Linked DNA regions of Homo sapiens: all the other regions are linked to region 2. Evidence: fine-mapped expression QTL. A gene starts in region 2. Each other region holds a variant in brackets. All regions are shown on one strand. Distances are between the middles of the regions.

Region 1 (5,230 bases), 350 kb before region 2:
TAGTATAAAAGGCAAGAAGAAGGTAATAAAATCAAAGTGTTCTGGTCAGGTGTGGTAGCTCATGCCTATAATCCCAGCGCTTTGGGAGGCTGAGGTGGGAGGATCCCGTGAGCCCAGTTTAAGACCAGCCTGGGCAACATAGCAAGACCTTGTCTTTACCAAAAATCTAAAAAATTAGCAAGATGCAGTGATGCGCACCTGTAGTCCCAGCTTCCCTGGGGTGGGGTGGGGCATCGGTGGGAGGATTGCTTGAGCCCAGGAGGTGGAGGCTGTAGTTAACTGTGATTGTGCCACTGCACTCTAGCCCCAGTGACAGACTGAGACCCTGTCTCCAAAACTACATATAATAAAGCATTCTAAGGTCGTTGCACTGTCTGAAAAGTGGTGAAAGCATTAATTTAAGGGACACTCACAAAGTCAAAAATGCATTTTGCAATCTCTAAGGCAAGCGAATAATAAGAGAATATGTAACTAATAATAAAGGAAGGGGCATGAAATGGAATAACAAAAACACAACCAAAAAAAGGTTGTTAATCTAAAAGAAGTCAAGAAAGGATAAATATTAAAAAACAATGAAAATATAGAACAAATAGAAAAATGGATAAGACGGTTGATTTAAACCCAGATATAGAATTAATTATATTAATGTAAATGAACTAAGTAATTAAAAACCGAAAACATTGTCAGACTCAATTAAAATGAGCCAAAAACTATGCTGCTTAAAAGAAATATTTTAAATATAGAAACTATGAAAGGTTGAAATTAACAGGATAGAAAAAATATAACCAAAAGTAAATTGTGTAGCTTTGCTATATCAGACAAAGTAGACTTTAAGACAAGAACTATTATTAGAGACAAAGAACATTTTATAATAATAAAAGAGTCAATTTAACAAGAAAATGTGATTATTCTAAATAATCCAGAAGTCAACATAGAAATCACAATGGAAATTATGAAATATTTTAAATGATAAAAAAAACAGACAATGTATGGCATTCAGCTAATGTCATACTTAGAGGGAACTTTGTGGCATTAAATGCATTTATAATGGGAGAAAAAGGCTGAAAAGCAATTACCTAAGTAACTATTTCAAGAAACCTAGAAGATAATCATCAAATTAAAACCAAAAGAAATAGAAAGAAGAAAATAATAAAGAACAAAAATCAATGTAATAAAAAACAAACATGCAATACTTAAAAATCTAAGAAGCCTAAAATTAGTTTTTAGACTAATAAAATTGATAATCTCCTACCTGAACCAATGAAGAAAAATAGAGAAAAAGCATAAAACACCAACATACAGTTATAAAGATCCTAAAGACAATAAGAGGATAATGAGAAGGCAATATAAATAACTTGATACCAATAAACTTAGACATTTAGATGCAATGAGCAAATTCCTCGAAAAGCACTATTTTCCAAAATAGTCACAATGAGGAATAAAAAATATAAGTCATTCTATATTTATTAGGTAAAAATGAATATATAATTTAAAATCTGTCACAAAGAATAAGCTAAGCTCTGATGGTGCCAATAGAAAATTTCTCCCAATATCCCACGATATTATGTAAACCTTTACAGAGAAAAGACAAAAAGATTAAGAGGCCAGCACAACATAAATTGTATCACAACCTGAAACTTCAGTTAAAAAGTTTGTTGTTGTCGTTGTTTGAGATGCAGTCTCGCTCTGTCACCCGGACTGGAGTACAGTGACGCGACCTCTGTTCACTGCAACCTCTGAGTAGCTGGGATTACAGGCGCCCACTATGATGCCCGGCTCATTTTTGTACTTTAAGTTGAGACAGGGTTTCACCATGTTGGCCAGGCTGGTCTCAAACCCCTGATCTCAGGTGATCTGCCCACCTTGGCCTCCTAAAGTGCTGGGATTACAGACGTGAGCCACCGCATCAGGCCAAAAAGTTTACTTTAAAAAGAATCCACTAGAACAGCAGTCCCCAACCTTTTTGGCACCAGGGACTGGATTCATGGAAGATAACTTTTCTACAGATGGGAAGGCTGTGGGGTGGTTTCGGGATGAAACTGTTCCACCTCAGATCATCAGGCATTAGATTCTCATAAGGCACGTACAACCTAGATCCTTCTCATGCACAGTTCACAATAGGGTTTGTGCTCCTTTGAGAATCTAATGCCACCGCTGATCTGACAGGAGGCAAAGCTGGGGCGGTAATACTCCTTGCTCACCCACCTCCTGCTGCACGGCCCAGTTCCTAACAGGCCACGGACCAGTACCAGTCCACGGCCCAGGTATTGGGGACCCCTAGTCTATCCTGTTGGAAAGTCTCTAGTTATATAATTACAAGTTTGTTGGATGCTTCTGACTGGTTGAGCTTAAGTTCTGTTTTCCTTTAATACAAATATTTACAAGAAATAGCTCGAGTTAAGTTTTGCTTATGTTTACAAATCAAGCAAGGTCGTGGTCATTTGTGAGGCCTGACTTATGGTTCTGTCTGCTCAGGGGTTCTTCAGACCTGGTCTCCATTTTAATGGACTGTATCATTAGAGCCTGCCTGCATCCAATGACTGTACCTCTCTTCATGTAGAACCCTCTCTTATGAGGATAAGAATTTCTGTATAGCTTTGCATAAATGAAACCAAGGATGCAGGCTCTGCAGCAGATTTAAGAGATTTTCTAAGGCACTTCTGGTTCTGCTTGATTTTTGCCTCTGGGCTAATTACGACACATTATCTGCTCATCAATTTCGATGCCACCGCATAACAGATAGAGAGGATGTAGTGTGAGAAGATAGATTCTACATACCCACGCACACACACACACAATTGAGGGGAGGATGAGGGGGAAAAGGATTTATGCATGTACAGGCATTTCTGCCTTCACCTGAAGCATAGATAAGAACTCAGGAGTTCTCATCAGCGTGGACTTCCCCGGCAGAGGAACTGAATATGCAAAGACATGGAGGCATAAAGGTCGAGGCTTGTTGAAAAACTAAGGAGTCACTTGTGTT[TC/C]CTCTCTCTGGTGAGGGGACATTAGCTCATGATCCTGACAGAGGGATAGACTGCTGACATTTTCTCTTTGGTTCCTAGTGTTAAATCTAGTTAAATGGTTCCAATGGGCTGGGAGTGCAATTAACAAGCAGCAAGAGCACCCCAGGGACACTGGTTATGGAGTCCTCTTAGGGCAGCACTGCCCAATAGAACTTTCTGTGATCATGGAAATGTTCAGCAGCTACACTGTCGAATATGATAGTCACTAGCCATATGTGACCATTTAGCATTTGTGGCCAGTGGGAATGAGGAAGTGAATTTTTTTTTGAGATGGAGTCTTACTCTGTTGGCCAGGCTGGAGTGTAGTGGTGCCATCTCGGTTCACTGCAACCTCTGCCTCCCGGGTTCAAGCAATTCTCCTGCCTCAGCCTCCCTAGTAGCTGGGACTACAAGCATGTGCCACCACACCCAGCTAATTTGTGTTTTTTTAGTAGAGATGGAGTTTCACCATATTGGACAAGATGGTCTTGAACTCCTGACCTCAGGTGATCCACCTGCCTCAGCCTCCCAAAGTGCTGGGATTACAGGCGTGAGCCACCACACCCGGCCAGGAAGTGAATTTTTAGTTTCAGTTAATTTAAATTTAACTAAGCTTGAATTTAAATAGGTACATGTGGCAATACATAACAGCAGCTCTGGGGACACCCTCCATGATCACAGCTCCTGGTCCTCCAGTCTGCTGTGGCAATTCCCCATAGGCTTTTCCCTTCTACCATTCGTTAGCATTTCTTGAGCAATTACTATGGGTAGAGTTCTGAATTCGATGCTGATGGGAGCAAACGATGGAACAGGCATGGTCCCTGACTTCTAGGAGCTTGTGTTCTAGAGAGACAGAACTAAGGGAAGGCCACTCGGTGAGTGCAGTGGCCAGAAGGGCCCAGGGTTCTGGGACAGCACGAGGAGGGCTGCAGCCCTGTCTGTTGTTCAGGGGTGGCTTCTCAGAAGGCAGAGGCATGAGGCTGAACTGGCACTGGGAATGGAGGTTGGGGAAGGGCCAAGTGGAGGAGGCGGCGCCCTGCTGTTGTCATGGCAACACTGGGGCCCTGGCATTCATAGCCTGCCCCTGTGCTGCTATGTAATGAAGCCACCAAACTGTGGTAGGGAATTGCCATTCATGTAATTTATTTTTATACCTTATTTCCTCCCTGAAACAGTTGAGGAGAATTGTGAGAGCAAACACACAGCACAACAGGATAAAAATAGCCCTTCAAGTGAAGGGAAAGCAAGGAGACCTGGTCAGATGAAGCCGGAGGGCTCCAGGGTAATCTCCAGCCCTGGGGAGCCGTCAGATGCGTTACTCACATAGAGACGGCCTGCCCGCTGTGTTATCTGGGAGCCCAGGCACTTGGCATCACTGCAGCCTGGTCCTGGGCAGGCCCAAAGATGGGAGTAATTTGAGGAAGCAGAACCATGGGGTCCTCTCAGTTTCATAAGTGCTGAAGGACATAGAACTGAACCCTTGACCTAGCACCCAGTGATGGGTGGAATCGTGTTCCCCGGAAAAGATATGTTGACTGACATCCTAGCCCCCTGTACAGTGTGAGCACTGTAACCTTATTTGGAAATGGGGTCTGTCCAGATGTAATCAAGTTGAAATGAAGTCAGTCATTCAGGTGGGCCCTAATCCAGTATGACTGGTATCCCTATAAAAAGGAGAAATCTGAACACAGAGACAGACACGCAGAAAGAAGATGGCCACGTGAAGAGGGAGGATTGGGGCAATGCACCTACAAGTCAAGAAAAACCAACGTCTGCTGGCAAACTGGTAGAAGCTAGGGAGAGGCAAGGAAAGGTCTTTTCCCTGCAGGTTGCAGAGGGAGGTGGCCCTGTCCACACCTTGATTCCGTCCTTTCAACCTCCAGAATTGTGAGATAATCATTTCCGTTCCTCGAAGCCACCTTGTTTGCAGTGTTTTTTTACAGCAACTCTGGGAGGCTCAGACACACCCTGATTCACAACTTGCTGCTTAAAAGGCTGTTGGAATGAGGGCCAGCTTGGGAGCATGTGAGGGGCTGAGACTGTGAGGTCAGGGGCCAAGGGGGACTGTATAGCAGAAGGTGCCCAGTGTGGGGAAAGGAGGAATGTGTCAATGACAGGGATTGTTCCTAACTCGAGAAACCTTCTTCACCATTAATTTCACTTCTATTGTACCACAAGGAATGGAAGGAGACCACACATACAGAAATTTCAGTTCACTCACAGTCTTA
Region 2 (5,230 bases):
GTGGGGAGGAGCAAGCCCAGCGCTCCTGACACGGACAGCTGCCGGAACGGAATAGAGGCCCATCGGGTGTCGAGAGATCTGCTCCCTTGCAAGCAGGAATGAACAGGCATCGCTCTGTGATCCAAATGCCTCCTAACCCGGGGGGAAGCATCAGCGCCACTCTCCCAGTTGCTCCTTCTCACACCTAAGGTGACCCTCAACCTTCACTCCTGATGCACAGCCCAGGCACCCTCAGGAGAGACTTCACTGGCCTTTGGACAGCTTCCTTCAGCAGACAGCTGTGGTTCAGAACCCTTTTCTCCGTCTCAGCTCTCTGCTAAAGACTTCCCTGGGCCTTAGTTTTTCTCACATGTTCAGTGGAAGGTTCAGAGTGGAGACCAATGAGTCTCAGCCTAGTGTCCCCTGGAGGGTTAGAAAACTACAAATGTGAAGGTCTATCCCCACACCCCAAAATCTGATGTGGGGTGTGTGTGGAATGTCTCAATTGTTAAAAAGAGGATTGCCCCAGGGGTTTTCATGCTCAGTTAGGGCTGAGAACCCCTGGAGGAGGTTCAGCTCGGCTTTGGGGCCTCAGAGCAGAAACTGGCGAGGCAGGTGTGTCACAGCTAGTGTGAGGTGGCATCTGACGCCGCAGTCCCACATGGCCCTGCTCTGCTCCACTGATGCTCAGTAGGGTCCTTTTGAGGTGTTTATCATCTGTTTTGCTTAATTTCCTGAGACTGTGACACGTAGACAGATTCTAGCCTCAAGGAAGAGCACCTGCCTTCCCTTCACAGCAGCGGGAACAGGTTACCTGGGAGACAATGAGGACCATGCACGCAACTCTTCAAATCCAGCCTGAGGTTCCACAGGGAGTGGGGTAACTCACCAAAGATTTTAGCCAAACCTTCATCAGGATTTTTTGAATTTGAGGAAAATTCAGGCCAGGTGCCGTGGCTCACGTCTTTAATCCCAGCACTCGGGGAGGCTGAGGTGGGAGGATCACTTGAGGTCAGGAGTTCGAGGCCAGCCTGGGAAACATAGGGAGACCCCCGACTCTACAAAAAATAAAAATTAATTACCTGGGCGTGGTGGTGTGCACCTGTGGTCCCAGCTACTCAGGAAGCTGAGGCAGGAGGATCCATTGAGGTCAGGAGTTCATGACCAGCCTGGCCAACATGATGAAATCCCATCTCTACTAAAAATTATATTTTAGTAATTACTAATTTACTAGTAACTTACTAATTTAGTAATTTATTAGTTTAGTAAATTAGCCAGGCGTGGTGGCACACGCCTGTAATCCCAGCAACTTGGGAGGCTGAGGCAGGATAATCACTTGAACCTGGGAAGCAGATGTTGCAGTGAGCCAAGATAGCGCCACTGCACTCCAGCCTGGGTGAGAGAGCGACACTCCATCTCAAAAAATTAAAAAATTAAAAATTAAATAAAATTAGATAGTGATGCTTCACAACTCTATGAGTATACTAAAAACCACTGAATTATATACTTTGTAAAGGGTAAATTTGGCCAGACATAGTGGTTCATGCCTGTAATTCCAGCACTTTGGGAGGCCAAGGTAGGAGGATCACTTGAGCCCAGGAGTTTGAGACCAGCCTGGGCAACATAGTGAGATCCCTATTTCTACAGAAATTTAAAAAATTAGCTGGGTGTGGTGGTACATGCCTGTGGTCCCAGCTACCTGGAAGGCTGAAGGGAGGATCCTTGGGCCTGGAATGTTGAGGCTGCAATTAGCTGTGATTATGCCACCGCACTCCAGCTCTGGGTGACAGAGGGAGAACCTATCTCAAAAATAATAACAATAAATAGAAAAATAAAATAAAGGGTGAATTTTATTATATATTATATCCTATAAAGTTATTACTAATTTTTTTTTTTTGAGACAGGATCCCACTCTGTTGCCCAAGCTTGAGTGCAGTGGTGTGATCACGGCTTACTGCAGCCTCGACTTTTTGGGCTCAAGTGATCATCCCACCTCAGCCTCCCTAGTAGCTGGGACCACACGCACGCATCACCATGCATGGCTAATTTTAAAATTTTTTATACAGACAGGCTCTCATGATGTTGCCTAGGCCTGTCACAAACTCCTGAGCTCAAGGAATCCTCCTGCCTTGGCCTCCTAAAGTGCTGGAGTTACAAGAGTGAGCCACTGTACCCGGCCTAACCCTGTTATTTTTTAAATAGTGCATATATATAGATAAAATCAGGAGGGTTAGTTAGCATATGGTGGTTCTTTATACTAATCTTTCTACTTTTGCATATGTTTGGAAATGCTTACAGTGAAAAGTTAAAATACGCATGTATGCCACCCTCCTATAGAGCTCTGAATTTTGAGAAAGCTTCAAAGTTAGGAAAATGTTTTCAGTTACTCCCTTCCCCCAAGTAATAAACCCTGAATGGCAGATTTGGGGAGGTATAGAAGGTAGAGTAGGTAAAGCATCTGTGTTCCCCACACTGTGGGAGGGAACGCCCTCCTCTGCCCCACTTAGGCTTGAAGTGAGGCCCATGTTTCTCTCCAGCTGCCACAGCAATATACCTTGGATCCAGCAGAGAACAAAGAAGAGGGCCATGGCTCTGCTCATCTTTGCCTTAGTCCATAAACCATCATGGAGAAGCCAGTCTTCTGATGGCCCTTCAGATTCAGCAGCTGTGGACTCCAGGGTACCACGGAACCTAACGGTCTATGAAGTCATACACGGAAGTGAGGTGGAGCCTGCTCAACCATGAGAAGGGGAAGGGCCTGTGTCTGTGGACAGTGACGGGGGCTATGCTGGTGGCCCTGAAGTGACTGCCTCTCTGCTCACTTCCCTCGGCTCCCTGGTGCCTTCCTCCATCCTGCATGTCCTGAGGGCAACAGGATATTAACCAGGACTCTGAAGTCACAAGTGATAAAACTTCAACTAAATTGGCTGAAGCGAATTGGAAGTAGCTAGAATAGCCAGAAAAATCCTATGATCAATCAAGACATCACAGCCGGGCGCAGAGGCTCACACCTGTAATCCCAGCACTTTGGAAGGCTGAGGCAGGCGGATCACCTGAGGTCAGGAGTTCCAGACCAGCCTGGCCAACATGGTGAAAGCCCGTCTCACTAACAAAGTGTTGCTGCTTATTATATTAGGTAAAATTATAACACCAAAAATAGCATAGACCAATTGATACGCCCATTTTGTTACTCACGTGTCACTATTTCCCTCTATTACATTTTATAAGTATTAAACTGTTTTCAAAGGAAAAATCTATTATAGTACCTTGTACTACACTTTTTTCTAGTTTTTTCTCCATGTTCATTTTGTAATGGGTCCCACAAATTATGTAGCCAGCCCTGCCCTTGAGCCTTCATGTTCTTACAGTGTCTGTTCCATGGCTGAGATGGCAGATATCTTTTAGGGGTAAAAACTTGCACAAAGAGTTATATAGGGCCGGGCACGGTGGCTCACACCTGTAATCCCAGCAATCTGGGAGGCCAAGGCAGGCAGATCACTTGGGGTCAGGAGTTCAAGACCAGCCTGACCAACATGGTGAAACCCCATCTCTACTAAAAATACAAAAATTAGCCAGGTGTGGTGGCGAGTACCCATAGTCCCAGCTACTTGGGAAGCTGAGGCAGGAGAATCACTTGCACCTGGGAGGTGGAAGCTGCAGTAAGCCAAGATCACACCACTACACTTCAGCCTGAGCAACCGGGCGAGACTCTGTCTCAAAAAAGAAAAAAGAAAATAATCTGCATAGAAGTGGACCCGCACAGTTCAACCCTGTGTTGTGTAGATGCTGACTGAATCGTCTCCCAGTTCTGGAGGCTGGAGGTCTGAGATCAAGACGTCAGCAGGGCTGGTTCTTTCTGAGGCTGTGAGGGAAGTCTCTGTTCCAGGACGTGGGCTCAGATGGCCATCTTCTCCTTGGGCTTGCAAGACATCTTCCCTCCATACACACCTGAGTCCACATTTCCTCTTCTAAGAACACAGGATCATATCGGATTAGGGCCTGCCCTAATGACTTCATTTTAACTTGATTTCCTCTGTAAAGACCCTATCTCCAAATACAGTCACATTCTGAGGTTCGGCGGGGTGGCTAGGACTTCAACATATGAAGAGAGGGTACCATGTAATCTGTAACAGCAGGTCATGGTAACCACAGAAATCTTATTTCTCTAAAATACCTTCCAAAACAAAAACAAAAACTAGAATAAAAAATAACAAAGAATATATAAAACAACACAAAACCCACACCCTCACCACAACCACAGGACAGAAAATGTCCAAATTCCAAATGACTGGTAAATAGAAAAATAAATGCTAACCCGGGCTCCATCTCTTTTGCTTCTGCTGCTGGCCTTTGCAAAGAGGAAACCTGGAGGTTGAAGAGGGTCTAAAATCTCCATCCTGAGTTTGCAAATGCTGAAAGCGTAACCTGGTTGATCAGTACAAATACCCAGGGGTGGAAGTGCCCTGGGGACAGGAGATTGGTGAGACTCTCTCACCAATGGACTCTCTCTCCCTCTCTAAAAAAACAATGATGTTTATTCAGGAACGGGCATTACAATGGGAATAAGTATGGATGTGTTCCAGGAGGTAAAGGAAGACATTTTTTAAAGAAAAAATGAAAAGGGTTACATAGGCTTTTATAAGACAATCATCTTTGGGGCCAGGCACGGTGGCTCACACCTGTAATCCCAGCATTTTGGGAGGCCGAGGCAGGCAGATCACAAGGTCAGGAGATCGAGATCATCCTGGCTAACACGGTGAAACCCCATCTCTACTAAAAATACAAAAAATTAGCCAGGCGTGGTGGTGGGCGCCTGTAGTCCCAGCTACTCGGGAGGCTGAGGCAGGAGAATGGCATGAACCCGGGAGGCGGAGCTTGCAGTGAGCCGAGACCGCACCACTGCACTCCAGCCTGGGTGACAGAGTGAGACTCCATCTCAAAAAAAAAAAAAAAAAAAACTTAGCTGGGCATGGTGGCGGGAACCTGTGATCCCAGCTACTAGGGAGGCTGAGCCAGGAGAATTGCCTGAACCCGACAGGTGGAGGTTGCAGTGAGCCCAGATTGCGCCACTGCACTCCAGCCTGGGCAACAGAGAAAGATTGTCTCAAAAAAAAAAAAAATAAAAAAGAGACCTGAAGGTGCCTCATATACTGTTCAGAGACATTCATGCATATAACAGTCTACACTCGGTGTCTGCTTTCTCTTTGCTTTTACTTAGCAATGTGTCCTGATATGTTTCATATGAAATTAT
Region 3 (5,230 bases), 640 kb after region 2:
AACCAATATTCTTCTGAAGAATTTAGTGACCATTGCCAGAAAAGCCAGTCTCTGGCAATTCCTGAGCTCTGAGAAACAAATATGTGGGACCCATAGGCAAACAAAGAAGATGTTCTGTGACATGGACAAGAGTCTCCTCTGCTTGCTGTGCTCCAACTCTCAGGAGCACGGGGCTCACAAACACTATCCCATCGAAGAGGCAGCTGAGGAACACCGGGTAAGAGATAGCTCTGTGATCACCTGAAAGCTGGAGGGTGGCAGAGTTAAAGAGATTAGAAGGATGATGAGAATCACGGTGATTACTCCATTCTTTACTGAGTGCCAGGTGCTGTTCTAGGTACCAATGATGACATTTTGAATAAAATGTGCAACTCTACCTTCCTTCATGGAGCTTGCACCCAAAAAGAGACTGATTAAGTAAATGTCATTATTATTGACTCTACAGTTCAATGCTAATGACATTGAAAAGCTACCAAAGCTACCAGTGCAAAGAAATGTATTTTGGAAATATATTTAATATTACTGGACAAATGAGTATGGGAGTAGCACGCTACAAAATCAGGGGCTAGCATAGTGGATTCTGAAGCAGGATGTTTCCCTGAACTAATTTAGCTGGGTTACAGGAAATCTTCATTCTTCAGTTCCCTAAACTGTTCTACATTCTGAAACCTCAAACTGAAAAATATCAATTAAGGATGAGCAATGAAAAATTTTGGTTTTTTCTCCTCTCACTAATGTATTTATATATTAGATCCCTTGCCTGTGTATACCACTCAGATTGTGGAATCTTTGGTATTTGACTTTCTGTTGTTCAACCTTGTAATTCTTTTGCAGGAGAAACTCTTAAAGCAAATGAGGATTTTATGGAAAAAGATTCAAGAAAATCAGAGAAATCTATATGAGGAGAGAAGAACAGCCTTCCTCTGGAGGGTGAGTATGAGACCGTGAGTCCTCCTGACCAGCTTGAGACAGGCATGCTGACAACATTTATATTAGCAACTTGAGTTGAAATTCTCATATGCCAGATTTTGTCATGTGTTTATTCATAGGCTGGAAAACAACCAGACTGTTCAATATAATGATTGTTCAGGTTTTCTGTAAATGCTTTTCAGATAAGTAAAAAATAAATATAAATTCTGAAGGGCAAGTATGTGCTTAAAATTAATAAGTATTTCAGACAGAGTTTTCTGTATAAAATTAATTATGAAATGTTGATTAAATAGTATATAATTGAGAAATAAAGGCATTTATTGGTGAATATGATATTGTCCAGGGGGAAGAAATCGGGTGGGAACAGTAATTTAAGAAATGTGCCTGTGCTGGTGAAATCTGATAGCAAAGGACCCACATGATGCCAGTCCAAGTAGGAGAAAATGCAACGTGAGGAAAAGCTGAGGAGAAGGGATAAAAAATGACTGGGGCAGTGAGAGGATAAATATGTCATTATTGAGAGGAGAAACACAATGGAATGGGGATTAATGTTCTTAGAATGGCAGTGCAATACAGAGTCTATGGATTTGACAGAAGAAAGACAGGAGACAGAAAAGAGGTAGTCGGTTTGAGAGATGGGGGTTAAATTTTTTACTAAGATCTTTTTTGTGTGATGGCTTCTGATCCTGATTATAATATACTAAAAACATTTCTACTAAGAGTGATTGTTCAGGCTGTGAAGTACAGAGATTTGAAACAACAACCTAATTGAGTAACAAAGATTATGTGTATTATCCATGACAACTGAACAATCAATCATAAATTTTAGTTGTTTTCTAATGGTATTTCCGATTTGAGAGGACATAGATTTAAACATTTAAATCCAAAGGGCTTTTTTGCAGATGTTTGGGAATTGATGAATTACACAAATTTTGAAGGAAGGTCTTGCTTAACTCATCATCCTGTTTGTAAAGGATGGAAAATAAAAGAAGGAATGAGGAGGATGAAGTTGTGGGTTCTGTGATGTGGAAGTAGGCCTGGGTATATAACCTACAAAATTCATATCCCTACAGGGCGATGTGGTTTTACGGGCACAGATGATCAGGAATGAGTAT[A/G]GGAAGCTGCATCCGGTTCTCCATAAGGAAGAAAAACAACATTTAGAGAGACTGAACAAGGAATACCAAGAGATTTTTCAGCAACTCCAGAGAAGCTGGGTCAAAATGGATCAAAAGAGTAAACACTTAAAAGAAATGTATCAGGAACTAATGGAAATGTGTCATAAACCAGATGTGGAGCTGCTCCAGGTAAGAACGGAGGATGCCCCTTGAGACACTTTGTGTTAGCTGACCTTTACATCTTTGCCTTCCATTGGGTACCAAAGACATTATTTCTTCGTTTCCTGCACTGACGATGAGAGTCATTCCCACCGGTTATAGAGATAAACTATAACTCCTACCCTATATAATGGAAATAAAGCTTTATGGAATTGTGCAACTAGCTTTCCATACAACATTTTCTACCACAAGCTTCCTCCTCCAGCGCATTTCATTAAAACTCTGGAAGAAAAAATTTCATGTGAAAATTCTATTTTTAACTCCAATGGATAATACATAGAAATTATGGAAAAACTGACATTTCCTTCTTCCTCCTTTTGGGAAGTCCTAGGTTTGAAATGCTCTTGATTTGAGCCACATTACACTTTGGGGACTAGCCCTGAAAAAGACCACGTTGTAGACAGCTGCAGCAATGCGCAGTCACTACTCACACCTTTCTCTCTCACTCAAATTTAGGGTCCTTAATTTATCAGAAATCCATATTGTCAATAGGTCTTACTGGTATAATTGTTAGAGATAAGAATACATTTTAAAATAGTTGCAGTGATAGTATGTGGTAATTCTAAAGTTTTCAAAACCTGAAGACCAGATAGGCAGAATAACAACTTTTTTGTGTGTTTATTTTGAGACAGAGTCTTCTTCTGTCACCCAGACAGAAGTCCAGTGGCCCAATCTCAGCTCACTGCAACTTCTGCCTCCTTGGTTCAAGCAATTCTCCTGCCTCAGCCTCCCTAGTAGCTGGGACTAAAGGCATGCACCACCACACCCCACTATTTGTGTGTGTGTGTGTATTTTTAGTAGAAATGGGATTTGCCATGTTGTCCAGGCTAGTCTGGAACTCCTGACCTCAGGTGTTCCACCCACCTTGGCCTCCCAAAGTGCTGGGATTACAGGTGTGAACCACCTCACCCAACAAGAATAACAACTTTCTAAAGAAGTCATTTTTTTTTTCTCTCTCTCTCTCTACAGGATTTGGGAGACATCGTGGCAAGGTATGTTTTTGGCCACCAGTGCAAACTGGAGCACAAGGCATGCTATGAAAAACATCAAGCTGTTTCCAACAAAGTGAAAACATAATTTACTAACACCATAATGTGTCAGTGTGATTGTGTGTGTATGTGTGTGTACTCATGTGTTTATGTGGTATGATGAATGTCACCTATGCCTTTTATCAGATATTAATCTTTTCTTACTTTCCCAGGTGACTCAGGGGTTTATGTTTTGAAGAGTGCAATGCAGAGGTTGCTAGAATACAGTTGCCTCTTTTTGCGATTCAGAATCATAATTAGAGATAAACTATTTGGTGGCAGATAGGGAGAGAGGCATTTATCTTTCAGTGGCAGTAGGTTAGAAATGGAGTGAATAGTTAGAAAGATTCCCTAAGAGCCACAAACCCAACCTAGCGTTGTGGAGGTACATTACGGTATCAGAAGTGAGCTTGAATGAAGCATTTTCTATTGTAATCTGTTTCTTAAACACAGACATCAGAAAGTTAACCAACTCAACCTACTTCCTTGCAGGAGTGAGCCCGTGCTGCTGCACATGCCCCAGCCTGTGAATCCAGAGCTCACAGCAGGGCCCATCACTGGACTGGTGTACAGGCTCAACCGCTTCCGAGGTGAGTGTGGCCCTGTTGGTGGGATCCCCATGCAATGCCTTCAATTATGGTTTTCTATGGGCAGCTTTCCCAGTGTAATGATCTTTCATCTAGAAGAAGAGAATAGCCTGTGAATAGGTATTTATAGTTTCACTATCATCAAACAGACAAAACAAAATAAAAGCTGGTGAAATGTAATAGGAATCAGCCATATAACAAATTTCTTAGAAAAATAAAACATGCAGAAGGGCTCTTTAGGACTTTAGGAACCATTCTCTGATACAATTTCATGTATACAATTATTACATGAAGTATACAGAACTGAATTCAGGACATTTCAATTTCAAATTCAGTGCAGTTAACGACTGATTTGAGTGACAGTGTTTTTTTTAAATACATTTTTAGGTGAAGTTTCATAGCATTTATAATTTTAATCATGTTTTTAATCAACTAAAGCATACATGAGTAACTTATATAACAATGCAAAAACTGAGAATCTGTCAACAATAGGAACAGGATTTGGTGGTTGACGAGGTCTTAGATAGAACTCCAGGATAGATCATGACAAATCCAGCAGAATAAAAGAAGTCTGTGCCTGAATCTGGCATGAAAGTCAGATAATTCTTGCAAGGAATCTGCACTTTTCAGAAGGCAGATTCAGATTTTCTCTTTAAGTATGAATTTGCTAGGTTAAGTGGCAGATCATAATATTTCTGGAAAGTGATAACTTTTTTATTTGGGACTAAGAATGGCTGCCCACCTCATCTCCTGTCCAAAGCCTCCTGCTCTGCCCTGACAGAGAAGAGACAATGAAGGTTAATTTTATTGCTATGGACTTGGCTGCAGTGCAGGAGCTTCCAGTTTTTCAGTTGTTATGAAAGGTCGCTAACGAGACATAGACATGACCTTCCTCCCCTTTATACTTTTTGAGTTTATGGAAATTGTGATCATCCTAGTTTAGCCATTTACTTGTGCAGATCTCCTAACACCCTTTGATTCCAACATTTTTCCAGACAGAAGTTTCTTTCTAATCTTGACCTGTGTTTTCTAGTGAGAATCTCTTTCTTATCTGAACATAAGAATTTGTAAACTGCTTTTCACTGGAATATTCTCTTTTTTCTACAGTGGAAATTTCCTTCCATTGTGAAGTAACCAATCACAATATCAGGCTCTTTGAGGATGTGAGAAGTTGGATGTTTAGACGTGGACCTTTGAATTCTGACAGATCTGACTATTTTGCTGCATGGGGAGCCAGGGTCTTCTCCTTTGGGAAACACTACTGGGAGCTGGATGTGGACAACTCTTGTGACTGGGCTCTGGGAGTCTGTAACGACTCCTGGATAAGGAAGAATAGCACAATGGTTAACTC

The links. PIP is the estimated chance that this variant, and not a neighbour inherited with it, causes the effect.
Region 1: its variant is the best candidate, but not a certain one, in a credible set for the expression of C2orf92 in stomach (GTEx, PIP 0.86).
Region 3: its variant is the best candidate, but not a certain one, in a credible set for the expression of C2orf92 in blood mononuclear cells (TOPMed, PIP 0.50).

What each region holds. Positions count from the first base shown.
Region 1 is chr2:98,020,295-98,025,524 of GRCh38, reverse strand. No RefSeq gene overlaps it. Among named protein-coding and RNA genes, the nearest start is that of TMEM131, 27 kb to the right of the region's middle. The variant TC/C (reference allele first, on the strand shown) is at 2,984.
Region 2 is chr2:97,667,138-97,672,367 of GRCh38, reverse strand. C2orf92 (chromosome 2 open reading frame 92) reads right to left here and starts at 2,655. Exons shown (of 8, transcript NM_001351368.2): 1 at 2,534-2,655. The coding sequence starts at 2,579.
Region 3 is chr2:97,026,213-97,031,442 of GRCh38, reverse strand. It overlaps the pseudogene TRIM43CP. Among named protein-coding and RNA genes, the nearest start is that of FAM178B, 42 kb to the right of the region's middle. The variant A/G (reference allele first, on the strand shown) is at 2,046.